3 linked regions of the Homo sapiens genome follow. The protein of the gene in region 1 purifies or fractionates together with the protein of each later gene. This does not show direct contact. Each region holds a gene or a part of one and is shown in the gene's direction. Other genes may lie near its edges.

Evidence for each region.
Region 2: the proteins of KLRF1 (region 1) and GAPDHS purify together in Homo sapiens (affinity purification with mass spectrometry; 3 studies listed by BioGRID and IntAct, with this or other methods). This does not show direct contact.
Region 3: the proteins of KLRF1 (region 1) and REEP5 purify together in Homo sapiens (affinity purification with mass spectrometry; 3 studies listed by BioGRID and IntAct, with this or other methods). This does not show direct contact.

The regions. Positions count from the first base shown.
Region 1 is NC_000012.12:9,830,472-9,837,491, forward strand, and holds part of KLRF1 (killer cell lectin-like receptor subfamily F member 1), read left to right. Parts: intron 1-1,844; coding exon 1,845-1,943; intron 1,944-2,790; coding exon of another isoform or gene 2,791-2,807; exon of another isoform or gene 2,808-2,818; coding exon of another isoform or gene 2,819-2,831; coding exon 2,832-2,981; intron 2,982-7,020. UniProt on the Homo sapiens protein: Functions as an activating receptor involved in immunosurveillance upon binding to various ligands displayed at the surface of myeloid cells.
Region 2 is NC_000019.10:35,528,641-35,536,470, forward strand, and holds the start of GAPDHS (glyceraldehyde-3-phosphate dehydrogenase, testis-specific), read left to right. Parts: upstream 1-4,815; 5' UTR 4,816-4,887; coding exon 4,888-4,954; intron 4,955-7,830. UniProt on the Homo sapiens protein: May play an important role in regulating the switch between different pathways for energy production during spermiogenesis and in the spermatozoon. Required for sperm motility and male fertility.
Region 3 is NC_000005.10:112,919,213-112,926,500, reverse strand, and holds the start of REEP5 (receptor expression-enhancing protein 5), read left to right. Parts: upstream 1-4,273; 5' UTR 4,274-4,310; coding exon 4,311-4,428; intron 4,429-5,244; coding exon 5,245-5,338; intron 5,339-7,288. UniProt on the Homo sapiens protein: Plays an essential role in heart function and development by regulating the organization and function of the sarcoplasmic reticulum in cardiomyocytes.

The DNA.
Region 1 (7,020 bases):
CTTTTTCTGGACTTAAGCAGAAAACCTTCTTTCAGTTTTCTCAATTGAATAAGATGTTAGCTTCATTAGACATAAAACTATTATGTTGAACAAGTATCTATTAATTTCTGTTTTTTAACATAAAGATATAAGATTTTATCAATTTCATTTTTTACATCTATTGAGATGATGATAGATTTTTTTCCTTAGCTTTATTAATATAATATTAATATGGATTTCCTCCTATTGAATAATCTTTATATTCCTAGAATAAACCAATCATGGTTATAATATATTTTGGTTGCTGATAATGTATTTACCATTTTTGTACAGACATTCATAAGACTGATTTTGGTTTTCCATTTTATTATTTCTGGTTTTGGGTGGTTAAAAGGCTTGTGTTTTAACCTTTATAAGTTAAATTAAACCATTTCCTTATAGGAGAAAACACAGGATAATGAAAGTTTTACTTTCTCCATTATTCAGCATCTTTTAAAATTTTTTTTTACTTTTATTTTTATTTTATTATTATTTTTTTGAGATGGAGTCTCGCTCTGTCGCCCAGGCTGGAGTGCAGTGGCGCGATCTCAGCTCACTACAACCTGTAGTGCTTAGGAGAAATAATTCAGTCTGAGTTGAATTTCAACCACCTTCCACAACTTTTTTTCCTAATGTTTTCTGATAATTATTTTTTAAGTTTTAAAATAAATATATGACTTTTTTAAGACACATGCTTGATTTCTTGGAATTTATTGCTTATCAATATTAATATATCAAAAATTCAAAAATAATCTCAGAAATGTGGAGTATTCATTAAATGAATTCTGATAAAATTATTTTAATATCTTTGACAATGTTATGATAAGAGAAACCCTGCGAACTATTTATCTAAAATATCATTCTATAGGGTTCATCATGTGCTTTCTTGACAGGGCTTGACAGCGTCAAATGTAGTTTCTCTATTTTCTCAGGTTTAAAGAGTATTTAGAATATAAATTTCAGCATTAATAATTCAATTTATTGACTGAACAATAAGAATAATTTCGGTTACAATAGAGGATTCTTATCAATTATTATGATAGATTTACATAAATTATCTTTGATAAGGACAAAATGTTTCACAAAGTATAGATATTCACTTATTCAGTATAACATAATTATTCATGTAATTTCGTAAGTCAGTGCCCAGCAGACCTAAATCCTCTGGATGAGACTCTCTACTGTCTGTCCAATGATAGCAGTTTCTTGAATAATAATCATTGAACAAGCACTCTTATCTTAAACCTGACAGTGTAAGTCTATGAAAAATAAAACAGTTCTTAAAAGTTTAGCATTTAATAAGAAGATGAAATATTATTCATGACTTACAAAGGATTTTAGGGTTTTTTTGATTAAAATAGCAGGATACCTAAAGCCATATTTAGTTCTGATTCATCCTTAGTAAATAAAAAAGGCTCAAAGGACTTGTAAATGTTATATTAATGATTAATCAGAAAGTGTTTATGTGGATACACATGTATTATCTGTAAATGCATGTGCATGTTCATGAGTGCGTGTGTCTCCGCAATGGTTGGAAAATTATTCAGTGCATAGAGTAAAATTCTTTCTACAAATTAATAATGTTAAATATTAGCAATTTCTTCAGATTTGATATGACACGTATCATAGCTTCTGACCATCCAGAGTGTTATCATTGTTAAATAAATGTATATATTTTTCTATTTACTTAGCCTTCATGCTTTTGATTGCCTAATATCTTTTGAAACCAAAACTAATATTTTATACAATCCTATTATTACAATTGCTATTGTATTACTTCCTGGAAGCATACTTTTCTAAACTAATTCATGTGATTAATGTCTCAGATTATTCAGTGACGTTGCACTGGTATAAAATCTTACTGGGAATATCTGGAACCGTGAATGGTATTCTCACTTTGACTTTGATCTCCTTGATCCTGTTGGGTAAGTTTAGAAGATCTTAATTAAATAAAAATATGAAAGATGTTTACTTGTCTCTTATAAATCTTTTTATAATTATTCATTCATTCTTCACTACATTAACCAAGATTGAATTAGAAGCTACTGCATGTAAAGCTCTATTAGTACACTCCACAGTGCTATATTTAATATGCAGTCAAATCAGGTAAGTATCTTGCCCTCAAGTGGCATACAGTCTAATACGGAGAAAGGAGTGTATGTGTAGAGTGTGTGTGTGTGTGTGTGTGTGTGTGTGTGTATGTGTGTGTATGTGTGGTATTTGAAACAGTTTTTCTGTGTTTCTTGGATACTTTAATAGATAAAATTTTACTGTTTTGCTTAAATATTTTAATACATTTTATCTAAGGTTGCATTTAGTTTGCTTTTCCTTTTGTCCAGCAAATATTCACCGAGCAGCTACAATACTCCAAATATTACAAATTCCCCAAAATTTTTAAGAAAAGAATAGTCAGGGTGAGGAATGTGATATTCTAGTGGGAGAAGCAGGTACTAAGTAATTATGGTACAATGTTCTGACTACAGTGTTGGAGGCTGCAGAAAAACATTAAGAAAGGATGAAAAGAGCCTATATACTTCCCAGAGCAGAAACTTGGCTTTATTTATTATTGTATTACCAGTTCGTAGGAATGCCTGGCATAGAATAGATTCTCACCAAATATGTGTTGTATAAATGAATTGATTGTATAATATTTTGAATTCTTTCCATCAGTAGACATGAAAATTTTAAAAAGATCCTAGTGACCGTTTCAATTATTTCTTGTTCCAATCATCGGAATCATTCCATTGAATGTGTCCCTGAAACATTCCATAGAGAAGATATTTACCTAACCTTAAAATAGTCCTGTATTCAAGTTTCTCAGGGAGTATTGCTAAAATGCCAAAAAGGAAGTTGTTCAAATGCCACTCAGTATGAGGACACTGGAGATCTAAAAGTGAATAATGGCACAAGAAGAAATATAAGTAATAAGGACCTTTGTGCTTCGAGATCTGCAGACCAGACAGGTATGTCTCAAGGCTTTGGCTTATCCTAGTTTTAATCTTTTGGACTCTCTAAATGTGAAGTATTTTTGAACAGGTATGCAATAGATTAAAGTAACAAGTAAAAGTTTGGTATAAGTCTACTTTTCATTCAAAACTCGATTTAGGTATCTTTAAACTTGTTGCAGTGGGAGAAAATGGTAAAACAACACAAGAAATAGGCTCTGCCCTCCAGGAATTTAAAATCCAGTTGATACATATAAATATGGAAAGTTAGTTGTTATTAAAAAGCAGTATGTAAATAGCCATTCTTGTTTGTCACTTATTTATTCTTCTTTTTCTGAAATACAGACTGGATAAAAGTCAATATTTTAAAAATTATTCATTATGATTTTAAGCTTAGACTTTTAAGCTTAGAAATTCCAGTCATACAGAATTTTGAAAACATTACCTTCTATTTTTAAATGTTTAACTTTTTTTTTTTTTTTTTTTTTTTTTGAGCAACAAGGCTGTTTATTTCACCTGGGTGCAGGCGGGCTGAGTCCGAAAAGAAGAGTCAGCGAAGGGGAGATAGGGGTGAGGCCGTTTTATAGGATTTGGGTAGGTAAAGGAAAATTACAGTCGAAGAGGGTAATTCTCTGGCAGGCAGGAGTGGGGGTCACAAGGTGCTCAGTGGGGGAGCTTTTTGAGCCACGATGAGCCAGGAGAAGGACTTTCACAAGGTAATGCCATCAGTTAAGGCAAGGACTGGCCATTTTCACTTCTTTTATGGTGGAATGTCATCAGTTAAGACAGGAACAAGCCATTTTCACTTCTTTTGTGATTCTTCAGTTACTTCAGGCCATCTGGGCGTATATACGTTCAGGTCACAGGGGATGCGATGGCTTAGCTTGGGCTCAGAGGCCTGACAGTCCTGCCTTCTTACAGTAATAAGAAAAATAACATAAAATAGTATTGAAGTGTTGGGGCAGCGAAAAAAAAATTTGGGTGCGGGGGGTAGCATGGAGAGATAATGGGCGATGTTTCTCAGGGCTTCTTCGAGCGGGATTAGGTGTGGCGTGGGAACCTAGAGTGGGAGAGGTCAACTTGCAGGAGGATTTTGTGGTAAGGGGTGATATTGTGGGGTTGTTGGAAGGAGCATTTGTTGTATAGAATGATTGGTGATGGCCTGGATACGGTTTTGGATGAATTGAGAAACTAAACGGCAGATACAAGGTCCGAATAAAAGAAGGAGAAAAATAGGTATTAAAGGACTAAGAATTGGGAGGACCCAGTACATCCAATTAGAGAGTGTCCAAGGGCGTTCAGCATAATTACTTGCTTGGTTGGCAAGTTTTTGGACCCTATCCTTGAGTTTTCTTATGTTGTCATACACCAGGCCAGATTGATTTAGGTAAAAACAACACTCTTCATTTAAGAATATACAGAGTCCTCCTTTTTCAGCAGTGAGTAAGTCAAGGCCTCGGTGGTTTTGGAGGATAACTGCAGCTAAAGAGTCAACTTGGGCCTGGAGGACTGATAAAGTTTGTGATATGTCTGTGATGCTAGCAGAGAAGACACTAGAGAGGCTATGGAAGGTCGTGACAGAGGTTGAAATGCCTCCTATTCCAGTACCGAGAGCAATAGTGGAGGCAGAAAGTCCTAAACCAACAAGCAAGGGAATTAGTGGAATAACTCTTTTTTGTCGTGTTGGTGTCATGAGGGGAACAGGGAGCTCTTCGGTCCTATTTGCAAATTGAATTTTGGGAGTAAGGAAAACTAGTGTGCATGTACCTGTCCAATTAGCAGGTAGACACATGGAGGTAGAGGATCCACAGAGGAAGAAGAGACCTTGTGCGAGGCAAAACTGGAGATGCAAAGTAAAAAGATGAGGAGTGCTGAAAGGGGTGTCTTGTACCCAGACTCCTGGGGATCCAGCTAGGGCGGCAGCCACCAGAGGTTGTAATGGGGACTGGTGGGGTAACTGCGTAGAGGGGGAGGTTCGATTTTCATGGTATATGAGAAAATGTTGAGTGTCTATGAGCTACCTTTCACTGTTATTTTCGGGGCTGGGTATAAGTAAACAAGAAGAGGGCCTGGGAGGAGGGTCTGATGAGCAAGGGGAAGGTAGCCGAGGATGGAGTGAAATACAGGGTAAGTGTCTTCCTAAGCAATAATTACTGCTAATATTTTTAAGTTTGCCAGTATTGATAGAGGGCTTTTCTGTAATACGGAGCTGGAAGGCTCCAATTGTTTCGGTGACATGCATAGCTGGACTTTGGAGATGAAGAGTAAAGGAACATGGAGAAGGTGAAGGGTTACTAGGGGAATTCCAGTGGGTCTTTGCCGAGAGATACATAAAGGAGTGGCCACAGGAATAGGAATAGTAGTTTGTGTTGTGAGAGGTCCAAATATGGGGGGAGTAGAGTTGATATAAGGAGAAAGGTTTTTTAAGTAAGTGTGGAGGAGGGCGGCAGCTTGCTGATATGAAATGTCTGGGGAGGTCTTGCTGGACCTGTCTAGAAAGTAAATGAGTTCTTCAGGAGGGTAAAGGTGAGGGCTGTTAAAGGAAGTTCAGAGGTATAGGGAGACAGATGTTGCCCAGTCTACATGTAAGGTGGGGGCAGCTGTGTAGGCGCTGGAAGAAAGGGAAATGCAAAGCCAGCAGTTGTTCAATAAGGAGAGATTAGAAATGGCTAGGAGAGAATAAGTAACGTTGGTAGTGTGGTGGAGATAGCTGGGGAGAGGTAGAGGGTGACATAAGAATGGGAATGATCCCTTCATTCTATTAGGTCTGTTTGTCCTTACCCTACTTTTTGCAACAGGGCTTTACGAAGTTACCCCCACTACTTGGACCGAGCCCCAAAAACTAGTCATCCCTACTATCTTCTGTCTAGTCATACTCCTATTCACCATTCTCAACTACTTATAAATGCCCTACTCTTGTTTACACTGCCGGTTTACACTGTTTTTCCAAGCCATCACAGCTGATATCTCTTGGTGCTATCCCCAAACCGCCAGTCTTAACTCCCTCTTAGAGTGGATAGGTGATCTTTGCTGGCAGGGGACCCTCCAATACTTCCACCCTGATGAAGTTCTATTCTTTACTTTTAAGTTTAACTTTTTGATACTTAACTGATCATTTTGACATTTGTTTTATTGTATGAGATGATATATTATGACTTTCCAGATAAATGTATAATTATTATAAAAGGATTTTTTTCTAATCTACTAGTTCGTATTTCCTCCTTTATCATACGTGAAAATTTTATATATTTTATGTTCTACTTATTGACACTGTCTTCATTTGGCTTATCTGTCTGTTTTACAGGTATATTTCCCAAACTAATAGATATTGTAGCTTTACCTCATATTTTATTGTCTCCCTATCTGTAATGTCTGTCACTGTGTTGGGTATCATTGCAATGACACCTTAGAAAAATTAAGGCGGCTTTGGTAGGTAAACATGGAATCATGTACATGGCAGTAAACATTAATTAAAGTAGGTATAAATACTGTATATTGAGCTACAATATATTTATTTCCTATTCCTTTTCTTAGCTGAGGTACAATTCAAAATTTGAACCTTTAAAAGTAAACAATTTCATGATGTTTAGAACCTTCAAACGTTGTGAACTACCATGTTTATCTAGTTGAAAAACTTTTCCCAAAAATAAATCCCTTACATACCCAACAAGCAAATCACTCTCCATTCTCTCTCCCCTTAGCCTCTGACAACTACAAATCTTCTTTCGGTCTATATGGATTTACCTATTCTGGATTTTCATGGAATAGAATCACACAATATTTGGCCTTGGGCTTCTTTCACTTAGCATAATGTTTTTAAAGTTCATCCACATTTTATTCCTTTTTATGGGTGAATAATAGTCCATTGTGCATGTATATCTATAAATATAGATACATATATACTTATATGTATCTCTATATCTATAAATACATATATATTTATATGTATCTCTATATCTATAAATATTTATAGTTTTATGTATATCTGTAAATATAGATATGCACAATGTTTGTGTGTGCAGAGCTTAAAGGTCAGCCAAAGGTGAGATCTTAGGAC
Region 2 (7,830 bases), on another chromosome or scaffold:
GCAATTCTTCAACACCTCACTCCTCTCAGGCATCTAAGCCTCCAGCTCCCCAGGCAGTGAGGGGCTAGAATGATGGGAGGCACCGTCTGGAGAGGGGAGAACACTAGGTGGGATGAAGGAGTCATCAGACCTCGTTCTTGTGGGCCAGCCCCTGCCCTCACTCATTCCATTCCAGCCACACAGGCCTTCTCCCTGTTCCACAAACACACCAAGCTCATTCCTGCTGCAGGGCCTTTGCACATGCTCCTCTCTCTGCCTGGAATGCAGAACCCAGATCTTCACGTGGCTGGCTCCTCCTCATCCGTACTTGACTTAAATGCCAACTTCGCAAGAAAACCTCTCCTGACCATAACATGGCATTAATTATACTCTGTAGTATCACCCTTTTGTTTTCACAGAAAAAAAAAATCTGAAATTACCTTTATTTTTTATTGCCTGTCTCACCTACTAGCAATGTAAATTGGTCGTGTTGATCACTGCTGTATTCCTAGCTTCTTGAACACTGCCTGGGGTTCAGTAAATATTTATTGACTGGACAAATGGATGGATTCGAACAGGCCAAGGAAAGAGACTCCGAGCCCGAGTCTGGGTCTCACAGGGTGCTGGAGGGAAGGGCGCCTGGGTCGCCAGGGCAGCATAGAGTCCCTTGTGGAGTGCCGCAGATTTTGGAGGCAGGATCCCATTCCTGTCGCAGAACCCAGACCTCCTGCCTCCCAGCCCTTGGGCAAGGGCAGGGGGCTGATTGCCACGAGCTGGAACAGGACGCAGTGTCTCCTGAAAAGCCGGTTGAGGCAGCCACGGGGAGGGGCCGAAGACCCAGGGCAGCAGGAGCCTGTGAGCCAGAACCTGGGCTGGGGCCAGGCCCTCATCCTTCCTGCCCTCCCGACATGGGGCCTCCTAAGCCCCAACCTGAAGCCCCAAGTGTTGACATATTGGCTCGGGTTGGAGGGGAAACAGCTGAGAGTCTGGCCTCAGGCATGAAAAGGGCATCGGAAGGAAGGGCAGGTGGTGGTGGGCAGGCTTGGGGCAGCAGATGCATCTAGAAGCCAGTTGGGAGGGAGGCTAAGACCAGAACGAGAGCCAGTGGGTGGGTACAGTAGGTGCAGGGGTGAAAGATATTTGGGTTTTGGTGCCAAGGGGAGAGACTGAGAGAGGGGTGGAGGTGGGATTGCTGGTGGGAAGGCCAGGCAGGAACAATGTGCAGGGTGTGAGCAGCTGGAGGTGGCAGAGCTATGTGTGTGGGTGCCCAGGTGTGGCGAGAATCTGCACGTGTTTTCAGGCTTTGCTCAAACAAAGGCGCCAAGGCCCACTCCCCTCAGAGGACCCGGGGTTCCTCTCCAGCTCCTGGACACTTGACTCCACCCAAAGACAGGCATCCCAGGACAGATATCCAGAAGCTTCTGCCTTCTCTGGGCTCTGCCTATAGAGGGTGACTAAGTGTGCCACCTCTCCAAGCTTGAGCTCATCAAATCTGTTTCCCGGTTTCACACTCCAGGGACAAAGCCAAATTCCTGGGCAAACTCAGGTGTGGTTTTTCTGCCCTGGTCCAGGGCCGAAATGATGGAGTTTCCCATACCAGGAGGTGGCTGGGCAGAGAAGAGTGGGTGATGAGTGTCAGAATCCTAACCCACCCAGAGATCAAGAGGTGGGATTTCTCCCACTTTGAACTGTGTTCCATCTTCTTTTTGTGTTTTTGGAGGGAGAGTCTCACTCTATCCCCCAGGCTGGCATGCAGTGGCATGATCTCGGCTCACTGCAACCTCCGCCTCCCGGGTTCAAGTGATTCTTCTGCCTCAGCCTCCCGAGTAGCTGGGATTAGCCGGGCACCTGCCATGATGCCCAGCTAATTTTTGTACTTTCAGTAGAGACGGGGTTTCACCATGTTGGCCAGGCTGGTCTCGAACCCCTGACCTCAGGTGATCCGCCCACCTCGGCCTCCCCAAGGGCAGGGATTACAGGCGTGAGCCACTGTGCCTGGCCTGAACTGTGTTCCATCTTCTCTATCCCTCTCCACCCCATCCTTTCATCTTCTGCCAGCCTCAGTCCCTCTCCTCTGTCTCTCTATTCCCATGTGGCACGATTCGATTCAGGACTTCAGCATCTGGCTCCATAACTGAGAATGGCCTGGAGTTGTCCTTTCTTTATTTTATTTATTTTTTTTATGAAGTATCACTCTGTTGCCCAGGTTGGAGTGCAGTGGCAATCTCGGCTCACTGCAACCTCCGCCTCCCAGGTTCAAGTGATTCGCCTGCCTCAGCCTCCCGAGTAGCTAGGATTACAGATGCATGCCACTACACCTGGCTAATTTTTGTATTTTTAGTAGAGATGGAGTTTCACCATGTTGGCCAGGCTGGTCTCAAACTCCTGACCTCAGGTGGTCTACCTGCCTCGGCCTCCCAAAGTGCTGGGATTACATGTGTGAGCCACTGCACCCAGCCAAAATCAGCCCCTTTTGAATCCTGGTTTTGTTGAGGTTATATTTTTCACCTCCTTGATTGTACACCAAAATGTAGCTCCCTTTGTTTAATTAATCATCTGTGTTTTGGTCTCGGTTCGTTAAAACCTCCTCACCTGTACACTTAGTTTACTTTCTTCTCCCAGGCCATCAAAGCAGGAGAGCCTCACCCTGCCCTGGTCCCATGGCAGGTGCTTGGCAAATGAATTTCTCATGGATGTTGGCGGAAGGAAGAGGTTATGTCATTCTGCCCCTTCTTGCATCCATCCCTCTCTGGGATGGTGACTCCTTCCTGGCACAAACCCCCACTCCCCCTGAACCTTGGTCACAGCTGCGTGTCAACCTGCTGTGCAGGTGATGGTGCCTGCCTGTGAGTCACTGAGGTGCAAGCAAACCCCTACCCCGGGGCTGCAGGGGAGGGAGCTGTTTGTCCACTTGTTCTTTGTCAGACGTTCATTGAAAACCTGCTTTGTATTGTTCTAAGTGCTGGAGGCACAGTCGTGAACAAACAAACAAGAACAGGAGCCCTGTGAGGGGCTTAGAGCCCAAGGGGGAGACATCGAACAAATAAACCAATCAGTAGATCATGACAAACTACATGAAAAGCTACAAGGAAAAGAATGGGTGCTGCGAGAAGATATAACGTGAAGAGTTTGATAAGATTGGCGATCAGGGCCGGGCGAGGTGGTTCACGCCTGTAATCCCACCACTTTGGGAGGCCGAGGCAGATGGATCACCTGAGGTCAGGAGTTTGAGATCAGCCTGGCCAACATGGTGAAACCCCGTCTCTACTAAAAATACAAAAACAAAAAAAAAATTAGCTAGGTGTAGTGGCGCACGCCTGTAGTCCCAGCTACTCAGGAGGCTGAGGCGGGAGAATCACTTGAACCCAGGAGGCGGAGGTTGCGGTGAGCTGAGATCGCACCATTGCACTCCAGCCTAGGCAACAAGAGCGAAACTCTGTCTCAAAAAAAAGAAAAGAAAAGAAAAGATTAGCGATCAGATGAAACCTGAGGAATTGACATTTATTCATTCAGGTATAGTTTATTGGGCTAACGCCTTTTTCAGACAGGGTCTTGCTCTGTCTCCCAGCTGGAGTGCAGTGACACAATCACAGCTCACTGCAGCCTTGACCTCCTAGGCTCAAGTGATCCTCCCACCTCAGCCTCCCTAATAATTGGGACAACAGGCATGCACCACCACACCTGGCTACTTTTTTTATTTTTTGTAGATACAGGGTTTTGCCACATTGCCCATGTTGGTCTCAAACTCCTGGACTCAAATGATCCTCCCACCTCAGCCTCCCAAAGTGTTGGGATTACAGGCATGAGCCACTGCGTCCAGCCCACAAACACCTTTCAGGTGCCAAACACTTTTCTTGTCAATGGGATACAGAAGTGACATAGATGACGTCCCTGTCCTCTCAGAGCTTACAGTCTGGTGGACAGAGACAGTTGGCAAGAAAACAAACAATTTTTAGAGAGACATGTGCTCTAAGGAAAATAAAAACATAGACAGTGTAGCCCTAGAGAAATTTTGCACACTGAAGCATAACTCAGAATGGAGAAGTCAGACAAGGCTTCCTGGAAGATGGGCAGAAATTGGGAAGGGGGTGACGGCTGACAGTGACAGAGAAAGGAGGGAACTTAGATGCAGAGTGTAGAAAGCCTCTCTTAAAGGGTGGGAAACCAAGAGGCAGCCAAGGGAAGCCCTGGGTGGGCCTTCCAGGCATACGGAGGCAGCAAGAGTCACTCCACTGGAGAATCCAAGGGACAGCATGGAACCTGTGTGCTTCAAGAGACAGAGAAGAGGAAAGGGCTTTCAGGAACAGTGTAAAAGGTGGGATTCCAGGCTGGGTGTGGTGGCTCGCTCCTGTAATCCCAGCATTTTGGAAGGCCGAGGTGGGAGGATCGCTTGAGCCCAAGGGTTCTAGACCAGCCTGAGCAAAAGAGTGAGACCCTCTCTCTACAAAAAAATAAAAAGTAAAAATAGCCTGCAGTGGTGGCTGCACATGTAGTCCCAGCTACTCAGGAGGCCGAGGCGGGAGGATCGCTTGAGCCCAGGAGTTCAAGGCTGCAGTGAGCCATGATTGCACCACTGCACTCCAGCCTAGGAGAAAGAGTGACACCCCGTCTCAAAATAAATAAACAAATGATAATTTTAAAAAGTGGGATTCCATTCCAGACGGCAGTGCGTGGCCGTGGAACGGTGATGCATAGCGTGCTGACGTCCCATGCCTCTACGGGGATGGGATGCGATGGTGTCAGGCCTCTGGCTTGGGCGCCGCCCCTCGGCGACGTCACTGGGTACTGTGACGTCACTGGGTGCTGTGACATCAGGGCAATTAGCCCAGGACCCACAGCCCTGGCGCTCCGCACGCACCTCGGTAACATCACAGCAGGTCCAGGCCAATGATAACCTTATAAGAGGCCATGTCGAAGCGCGACATCGTCCTCACCAATGTCACCGTTGTCCAGTTGCTGCGACAGCCGTGCCCGGGTGAGGGAGGCAGCGGAGGGCGCGGGGGAGGGGTGGAAAGGGTAGTGGGGAGCGTCTGCACCCTCACACCTGTGCCGTATCCCTACCGCCCTTCCTGGCGTGTGCACCATCTAGGGACCAGGGGATCAGCCGCTCTCCCTCCCTCCACACCCGCCAGTGTGCTGGCAGAGTGGGGTTTACTGCCATGGCGGGGAGACCGGGCCTCCGCCCCCAGGGCTGGGTGGGCTTCGCGCCGCTATCACGCGGTAGAAAGAGCAGAAACGAGGGCCATCGGAGGCTGCAGCCTGAAAGTGGCGGGAAGTGGGCGGGCTTAGGAGGGGCTTAGGGAGAACCCAGGGGTGCTGGGCTTCCATGTAAAAGTGATGTTCATGGCGCTTCGCGTGAGGTGAGCTTTGCCCTCCCTGTGATGCACAAAACAAGGACACTTGGAACCTTGCCGGGGACGTGCTGACCACTTCGCAGGCGAGAGCTCAGGGAAGCCTCACCACCACCTGAGAAGGCCAGAGTGTGCCCGCAGTTTACAGAGCGGCCAACAGAGGTTAAGAGAGGGCAAACTACTTCCTTAGTCTCTCAACAAGGGCGGCGCGCCCGCGCGCGCGCACACACACACACACACACTCACTCACTCACTCTAGCCGGAGGAACCAGGTCTTCCGGTGGGCTGCCTCCATTCCCACACTGTTCCCTCACTTCCCAAGGGCGGGGGCCGCAGGGGTAGGTGGGGCTGGGGCTTTGGTCCAGGAGACCCTGGAAGACACAGGAGCAGACAGGCTTACCAGCCTCATGAGACTTGAACCCCTGCCCTGCGCATCACTGCTCCGTGGCCTCAGGCTTCATTTTCCCCTCTGTAAAGTGGGTTTATAGCGCATGCCTCTCGGGATTCAGTGGGAGGACGCAGTGAGGAGCTGGGGGCAGCACCCAGCTAGCCCCCAGGCTTTTCTCCAACCGGGGGACCCCACCCCTACAGTGGAGGGGAAGAGAGTGCAAGGCTGGGAGTGCTGGGAGAGGAGGACCATCTGAGTTTTCTTCGGAAGGGTCACCCATTGGGCTCAGATTCCCACCTGAACCAGGTGGACAAATCCCCTTTCTCCCATAGCAGAAACAACCCCCAAGGATGCAAACATCCTCAAGTTCACCAATAAACACTAACACCTTCATGAACTTGGACAGCCACTGGAAACACCTATAGTCCAGCCTCAGGCCACAAGGTCTGTGGCAACAGGGAGAGGTCAGGGAGACAGACAGGCCAGCTGGCCCCCGGCTCCCAGCCCCACCACCCCCCAGGTGCCTTTGATTTGGTGCCAAAAACTTGGACTCCCACTACCCCCTTCCAGCCCTTCTCCACCCCCTGCTGTCTCCCTTTCCTCAGGAATCTGTGTAGGATCAGACTTCCCTCCTCTATTAAAATCAGCTCCTATGTGTGGGCCTCGAGATCTCACTGCGCCCTCACAGCAGCCCCTAGGTGGGGGATCAGCCCCAAGAGGTTCATTAACTTGCTCAAATCCACAGAGCAGCAGGTCTGTGTGGACTGAGCCAGGCTTGACTTTCCAGCTTGAAACTCTCTGCCACCAGGTCCCCTGAGTCTCCACTTCTCCCCTCTTCTCAAGCCCTCCTCTGTAGCTCAGGCGGCTGCTACCTCCAGGCGCAGGTGTTTTTAAGTGCAGTCTGGGAGCAGGAGTGTGTGTGGAGAGGTGGGAGCCAATGTGAGCTTCCATGGGTTTCACAGAGTATGATACACGGTACTCTCTAAGCTTCCCTGAGGATAAGAAATGCCTGGAGTGCTTATTTTATTTTTTATTTTTTTTTGGGAGATGGAGTTTCGCTCTTGTTGCCCAGGCTGGAGTGCAGTGGCACGATCTCGCCCACCACAACCTCCGCCTCCTGGGTTCAAGCGATTCTCCTGCTTCAGCCTCCTGAGTAGCTGGGATTACAAGCATGTGCCACCACGCCTGGCTAATTTTTTTGTATTTTTAGTAGAGACGGGGTTTCTGCATGTTGGTCAGACTGGTCTCAAACTCCCAACCTCAGGTGATCTGCCTGCCTCGGCCTCCCAAAGTGCTGGGATTACAGGCGTGAGCCACCGCTCCCGGCCTGGAGTGCTGATTAAAAACAGGATTTCTGGGCCTCCATACAGACCCACTGAGTCCGATTTTTCTAGGAAGAGCCCTCCTCAGGTGATTTTTTTTTTTTTTTGAGACAGAGTCTCACTCTGTCGCCCAGGCTGGAGTGCAGTGGCGCAATCTCGGCTCACTGCACCCTCCGCCTCCCAGGTTCAAGAGATTCTCTTGCCTCAGCCCCCCGAGGAGCTGGGATTACAGTATTTTTAGTAGAGAACAGGTTTCTCCATGTTGGCCAAGCTGGTCTTGAACTCCTGACCTCAAGTGATCCACCCACCTTGGCCTCCCAAAGTGCCAGGATTACAGGTGTGAGCCACCACGCCTGGCCACTCCGACGACTCCTATCATGGAACAGTTTGGGGACCACTGGGCTAAATCAATTATTGGACAAATTCGGGGAACAATCTACAAAATACTAATGCATGTCAAACATTTCCTCGGCTTGGTCATAAGCAATCCATGTATTACCTCATTTAATCCTCACAACAACCCTCTAAGAAAAGTACTATTATCTCCCCTTACAGAGGAGGAAACTGAGGCACAGAGAATGTCACCCCAAGCGATCTATGTTGAAAGTACATACCCCGGCCAGGCGCAGTGGCTCACACCTGTAATCCCAGCACTTTGGGAGGCTGAGGCGGGTGGATCACCTAAGGTCAGGAGTTCGAGACCAGCCTGGCCAAGTGAAACCCTGTATCTACTAAAAATACAAAAATTAGCCAGGCACCTTGGCGGGTGCTTATAATCCCAGCTACTCGG
Region 3 (7,288 bases), on another chromosome or scaffold:
GAGGCTGAGATGGGCGGATCACTTGAGCTCACAAGTTTGAGGCCAGCCTGGGCAACATGGCAAAACTCCATCTCTACAAAAAAGTACAAGAATTAGCTGGGTGTGGTGGTGCACACCTGTAGTCCCAGCTACTTGGAAGGCTGAGGTGGGAGGATGGCGTAAGCCCAGGAGGTGGAGGTCAGTGAGCCAACATTGTGCACTGCACTTCAGCCTGGGTGATACAGTCAAACCTTGTCTAAAAAAAAAAAAAAAAAAAAAAAAAAATCAGGACCGGCACTGTGGCCACCTGTAATCCCAGCACTTTGGGAGGCTGAGGCAGGCAGATCACTTGAGGTCAGGAGTTCAAGACCAGCCTGGCCAACATGGTGAAACCCCATCTCTACAAAAAAATACAAAAATTAGCCAGGCGTGGTGGTGTGCACCTGTAGTCCCAGTTACTCAGGAGGCTGATGCACGAGAATCATTTGAACCTGGGAGGCTGAGGTTGCGGTGAGCCAAGATCATGCCACTGGACTCCAGTCTGGGTGACAGAGGCAGACTCCATCTCAAAAAAAAAAAAAAAATCAAATTATGAATCACTTTAAGTATTCAAAAACAACCCCAACTTAATATACATACTGTACTCAGTAGGAAATTATACAAACTCACAACTGGTTTGAAGTTTACAGTTCAGTTATTCTGCTAAGCAGCTGTACTAGTTTCCTAGGGCTGCTGTAACAGTCTCACAAACTGGGTAGCTTAAATAATAGAAATTGAGGCCAGGTGCAGTGGCTCATGCCTGCAGTCCCAGCACTTTGGGAGGCCAAGATGGGGAGATCACTTGAGGTCAGGAGTTTGAGACCAGTTTGGCCAGTGTGGTGAAACCCCATCTCTACAAAAAAAAAAAAAATTAGCTTGGCATGGTGGCACACACCTGTAGCCCCAGCTACTTGGGAGGCTGAGGTGGAAGAATTGCCTGAACCTGGGAGGTGGAGGTTGCAGTGAGTGGAGATTGTGTCACTGCAGTCCAGCCTGGGTGACCCAGTGAGACCCTGTCTCTAAATAAATAAATAAAACAGAAATTTATTATCTCACAGCTCTGGAGGCTGGAAGTCCAAGATCAAGGTCTCAGCAGGATTGGTTCCTTGTGAGGGTTGTGAGGGAATGATCTGTTCCAGGACTTTCTTCTTGGCTTGTAGATGGCCATCTTCTCCCTGTGTTTCTTCACAGTCTTCCCTTTATATGCATCTGTCTCCGTCCAAATTTCACCCCCCCTTTTTTTTTTGAGACAGAGTCTCGCTCTGTTGCCCAGGCCGGAGTGCATTGGCTTGATCTCGGCTCACTGCAAGCTCTGCCTTCTGGGTTCACACCATTCTCCTGCCTCAGCCTCTTGAGTATCTGGGACAACAGGTGCACGCCACCACGCCCGGCTAATTTTTTGTATTTTTAGTAGAAATGGGGTTTCACCGTGTTAGCAAGGATAGTCTCGATCTCCTGACCTCGTAATCCACCTGCCTCGGCCTCCAAAGTGCTAGGATTACAGGTGTGAGCCACCGCGCCTGGCCAAATTTCCCATTTTATAAGGACAACAGTCACACTGGATTGAGGTCCACCCTAAGGAGTTCATTTGAATTTGACTACCTCTTTGAAGACCCTATTACCAAATAAGATCACACTCTGAGGTACTGTAGGTTAGGATTCCAACATGTCTTCTTTAGGGAGGTAGAATACAATTCAACCCATAATAGCAATGTAATATAGGGGTAAGAGCCTGATTCTGAATTCTAGCTCTGCCACTTATTGTGATATGGGAACTCACTATGTCTCATTTTTTTTTTCCTTAAATGAGGATGAAACAGGTAGCATCTTCCTCATGCAGCTGTGAGGATTAAATGAACTAGTCCACGTAACACTTGGAATACTGGGTGGTACAACACATGTTAGATATTCATTCATTCATTAATTCAACAAATAGTTATTGAACAACTACTAAGTGCCAGGCACTGTTCAATGTGCTTAAAATATTGAAGCAAATAAAATAAGCAAAAATGTCTACCCTCACGGAGCTCATAATCTAGTGAGGAAAGAAAGATAATTTAAAAATAGAACATGGTCTGGCATGGTGGTGGCTCATACCTGTAATCCCAGAACTTTGGGAGGCCAAGGTGGGCAGATCACAGAGTTCAAGACTGGCCTGGGTAACATAGTGAAACCCCATCTATACTAAAAACAGAAAAAATTAGCCGGACATGGTGGCACACGGCTATGGTCCCAGCTACTTGGGAGGCTGAGGTGGGAGGATGGCTTGAGCACAGCAGGAGGTCGAGGCTGCGGTGAGCTGTGACCACGCCTCTGTACTCCAGCCTGCGTGACAGAGTGAGACAGTCTCAAAAAAAAAAAAAAAAAAGTAGAACATAATGCCAGACAGTAATAAATTCTATGGAGAAAAATCAAGCTAGAGACCACTGGGGGTTGCAATTTGAGATTAGGGGTACCATTTGAACAAATATCTGAATAATGGAAGGGGACAGTTAAATGGTTAACTGGGGAAAGATACTTTCAGATAGAGGAGGGTTTCTGGACTGTCACATTATTGACATTTGGGGCTGGATAATTCTTTGTTGTGGGGGCTGTCCTGTGTGTTACAGGATGTTTAGCAGCACCCCTAGTCTCTAACCACTAGATGCTAGTTGCACTTGCCACCTCCTGCTCTCCTTGTGTGACAATCTGTTTCACAACGAAAGTATCTCTAGACATTGCTACTCCTCCCCCCAGGAGGAAGAAGGGGAGAGGAAGTGCTCCTGGTTGAGAACCACTGAAATAGAAGAAAAGTGAACGAACGCCCAGAGGCAGGAATGGGCTTACCTTGTCTGAGGCACAGCAAGGAGGGAGGCAGTAAGGGAAGACATCAGAAAGGGGAGGGATGAACCATGTCACCTGTGACCCTGATGCCCTCCTTCAGGCAGATAGGAAGTTGCTGGAGGGTTGAGAACAAAAACATAGCACAACTTGACGCACATTTTAAAACAGATTCTACTGTCTGCCACATTGAGAATTAACTGTAGGTGAAAAGACAGAAGTAGACAGCAGGTTGTTTCACTTGTTCACTGATTTGGCTGGGTGGTGGTAGGAACAGCTGAGAAAGCTGAGCTAAGAAGCTCTGAGGAAGAAAGGAGGAAGGAGAATTAGCATAAAAGGAAAAAGCTAGGCGTGGGCAAGATAACTTTTTGCAGAAGTGGAAGGCAGTAGGGTAATTAAGTAGATTTGAAAGCACAGAGGGGTTGTGTAGGACCAAGACAGAATGTTCGGGGCCAGTTGTGGGCAGGGCATTGAATGCTCTGCCAAGGAATGGGAGCTCTAGTCTGTTAGGATAATAATACGGAGCTTCGGACAAAAATTCTGCAGCAGTGTGCAGAATAGGAGTCAACAAGAGTAATTTTAGGAGTGTCTGGAAGTCATATGGGTGAGATAAGAGGAGCCTAGGTTTAGGTGGAGGAAGAGCATGGCCAACTCATTCTGAAGGAAGCAAAAATGAGCTCCTGCCCTAAGGCTTGGACCTTAGAATCTCCGTCTTCTTCAGAGTATTTTGACTGTAGGAAGTGCAGAGTATATTGGCTCCACAGAGAGAATTTGGACACTTGCCACAGTATCAGACACCAAGACAACGCAAGCCCACCATGAAAAGATTTAATGCAGTTTTTGCTTGGAAAAGGTGTACCCCAGGGAGGATGTGTTAGATTTCTTCAAGGGTCTTTACAAGGCAACGATTGTCTGTAGGTGAGAAAAACTGCCAAGTTAAGGCAAAGAGGGAGAAAGCAGGACTGCTTCCAAAGAGTTCTTTCACGATGCTCAAACATTTCAATTTTTTAGGTCAAAAATGCCTTAGGTTTAGCACAGCAATGTAGGTGCCAAACTCATCGCAGTGAATTGCAGGCGGGAGCAACAAGGACGCCTGCCTCCTTTCTGCCTGCTTTTTGCAATAGTCCGATTTGAGAAGGGGACCCACGAGAGACACAAAATGCACGCCCCCACGCCACATCCTTTTTACCCCGCAATGGGTTAAGACTGTCAACAGGCAGGCCACCTCGCAGCGTCCGCGGAGTTGCAGGCCCGCCCCCGCCAGGGTGTGGCGCTGTCCCCCTGGCGCTGGGCGGGGGAGGAGGGGCGCGCGGCGGCCGAGGAGGGGCGCGCGGCGGCCGGGCGGGGCGAGCGGAGGCGAGTGGAGGACGCGTAGACGCGCCGCGGTCCCCGCCTGCCGCTGCTCCGCCGCAGTCGCCGCTCCAGTCTATCCGGCACTAGGAACAGCCCCGAGCGGCGAGACGGTCCCCGCCATGTCTGCGGCCATGAGGGAGAGGTTCGACCGGTTCCTGCACGAGAAGAACTGCATGACTGACCTTCTGGCCAAGCTCGAGGCCAAAACCGGCGTGAACAGGAGCTTCATCGCTCTTGGTGGGTGGCCGGGGGTCGCCGCCGCTGGTAGGGCCACGGGAGCCGCCGCTGCCCCAGCTGCTGGGGAAGGAAGCAGGGAGAGGACTCGGGAAAGGTGGAGTCGGAGACAGACGGGACAAGCAGCATATTCAGGGATCAGGCTGGCCTCCCGGAAAGCGTGGGCATCGGAGGACCCCGCGGGGGCTGCCCAGGCTGAGGGTCGCGGGGCTGGAGGGCAGCTGCGGCGCCGGGCGCTGGCAGCTGGAAGGGCCAGCGCTGACGTATGTCTGCCCCGCGGCCCGGCGCCCTATTCCTGCTGTCCTGCGCGGTGGGCGCGGACGGCGGGGCCCCTGCGGGCGGGCGCGTTGACGGAGGTACCCGGTCCTACCCGACCCTCCGTGGAGCTCCGCCCGGAGAGGGCGCCTCTCGGGTGGGCGGGGGCTGCTACTGCAGCGTGTGCGGGAGTCCGGGCCTCTCGGGACGCTCCCCGCTGAGCGCAGCTTCCCAGGCTGGAGCGCTGCCCAGCAGGCCCTGCGAGAGGGCGGAAGCGGGTGCCTGGGACCGTCCCGGGCGCCGGGGGTTGCTGCGCAAAGCGCCGGGGCCCCCTGCGGGAGGTAGGAGAGGCACAATGGTGGGGCTGCCTGGTATCCCCAGACTTCAAGGCATAGCCCAGCGGACGCGCAGGCCCAGCTTTCGTGTGGTTTGTTTTTCTCGCTCCTTTAATCGAGTCGAGAGGAAAACTCCTACAACAGGCCCAGCCTCGCGGTGTGGGCGGCGGCTGTCCCGCGTGAACGGCTCTCATGCTGCCCGACCCACTTCTCTCCTTGTGGTCCCCAGGTGTCATCGGACTGGTGGCCTTGTACCTGGTGTTCGGTTATGGAGCCTCTCTCCTCTGCAACCTGATAGGATTTGGCTACCCAGCCTACATCTCGTAAGTGACACACCCTGCAGCCGTCCCCTTCCCTTCCTCCATTCCTCCCCGCAGGGCTGCTGCAGTAGACTGCACATCCGCAATTCCCGGGAGAAAAGTGAAAGCTCGGCGGGGAGGGATGAGGTTGGACATAAGGGGTGGGGATAGTATTCACCATTTTGGAACCTTAACTTAATCCCTATCTCTTGACGATTAGCCCAGAGGTATTTTCATTAGATTATCCTGGTGACCAGTGTCCCCTCTCTTTGGCACACTAACAGGAAAGCGCTACCACTCTGTCGTCCTCCCTTTACTGGTGGGAGGATCTCAGAAGGTACAGGGAGCTGAGCACTTCTGTCTAGTAATTATTTTAATGAGTATTTCACCATATATTTATGCACCTAGAGAGTAAAACCCTATCAATTAGGTCTTCCTTAATTCATAATTACGTTAATTGAGACAGTAGGGAGAATTTTCTCATTTTCTTTTATTTTGAAAAAGCCACATGTTACAGACAAACTTGGGAAATGCTTACCCTAGTGTAAAAACAAAAACCTTTAAAAATGCTCCATGATATAGCTCCTTGGTTATATAAGTGAGTCATTTATATAATTGAGCTACTTAAAAAATGAATTTTTACGATTAGGATCTGAATTTATTACCAAAGTTGTTTTTATTCTACAATGTGTTTATTTTTTTTAATTCTACGATTTTATTTTTCCATTCGTTCAAGTAGGAATTATTCCTCTCCAGAAATGAATTTTGTTTTGCTCTACAGTTCTTCCTAAGAAAGCCAGTGGTTTTTACCTTCATTCAGTTGGTCTCTGCTACTTTCTTCAACCATAGGGATAAAAATAAAGGAAGAAAAAATTTTCACCTAGGAGGCTAAGACACAGATAACACATTATTACAGCTTGTATCTGTCACTAGTTAGGCTAGAATTTAGTCTATGACTATAAGGGAAGAAACATGTTTTAGAAGTTAGTTCTGATTTGAGCAATTAAATTGCAGTTACCTAGTAGTTGTTACTGTGTTAGTCCGGTACAGACACTTAGTCATACTCCAGAAAGTCTAGCTACATATAGCCCTGAGGCCTACCCCGGGCTCTGCTTTATGGAGGAGACTCAAGGAAAAACGGGATTGTGTGCACAGAATAAAGCATACAGACCCCCGTGAGCAAATATTCAGGCGGTCGGTGTTACATTAGTCTAATCAAGTCTGTTCATTGCATAACCAATATGATTGTATAATTGTCCAAAAGAAAGAAAAAGTATTTGAAAATGGTGGTCTTTAGTAGCATCAAAATCCATGTTGCTTAAAGTGTGACCTGTGAACACTGTCTTAGTCTGCTTGGGCTGCTATAACAAAATACCTTAGACTGGATAATTTATAAACAATAGAAATTTATTGCTCACAGTTCTGGAGGCTGGGAAATCCAGGACCAAGGCACCAGCAGATTTGGTGTCCGGTGAGGGCTTGCTCCCTGCTTCAAAGATGGCATCTTCTCACTGCTTCCTCACATGGTAGAAGGGTCAACTGGCTCCCTCAAGCCTCTTTTATAAGGACACGAATCCCATGCATGAGGGCAGAGCTCTCATGCCTGTTTCTTTTCTTTTGAGACAGAGTCTCGCTCTATATTGCCCAGGCTGGAGTGCAGTGTCGTAATCTCAGTTCACTGCAACCGCCATCCCTGGCCGCCCCCACCCCCGCCAAATTCAAGCAATTCTCCTGCCTCAGCCTCCCTAGTAGCTGGGATTACAGGCGTGTGCCACCACGCCTGAGTAATTTTAGTATTTTTAGTAGAGATGCGGTTTTGCCATGTTAGCCAGGCTGATCTTGAACTCCTGACCTCAGGTGATCCACCTGTCTCAGCCTCCCAAAGTACTGGGATTACAGGCGTGAGCTACCACACCTGGCCAAGCCCTCATGTCTTAATTGCCTCCTAAAGGCACCACTATTTAATACTAATAC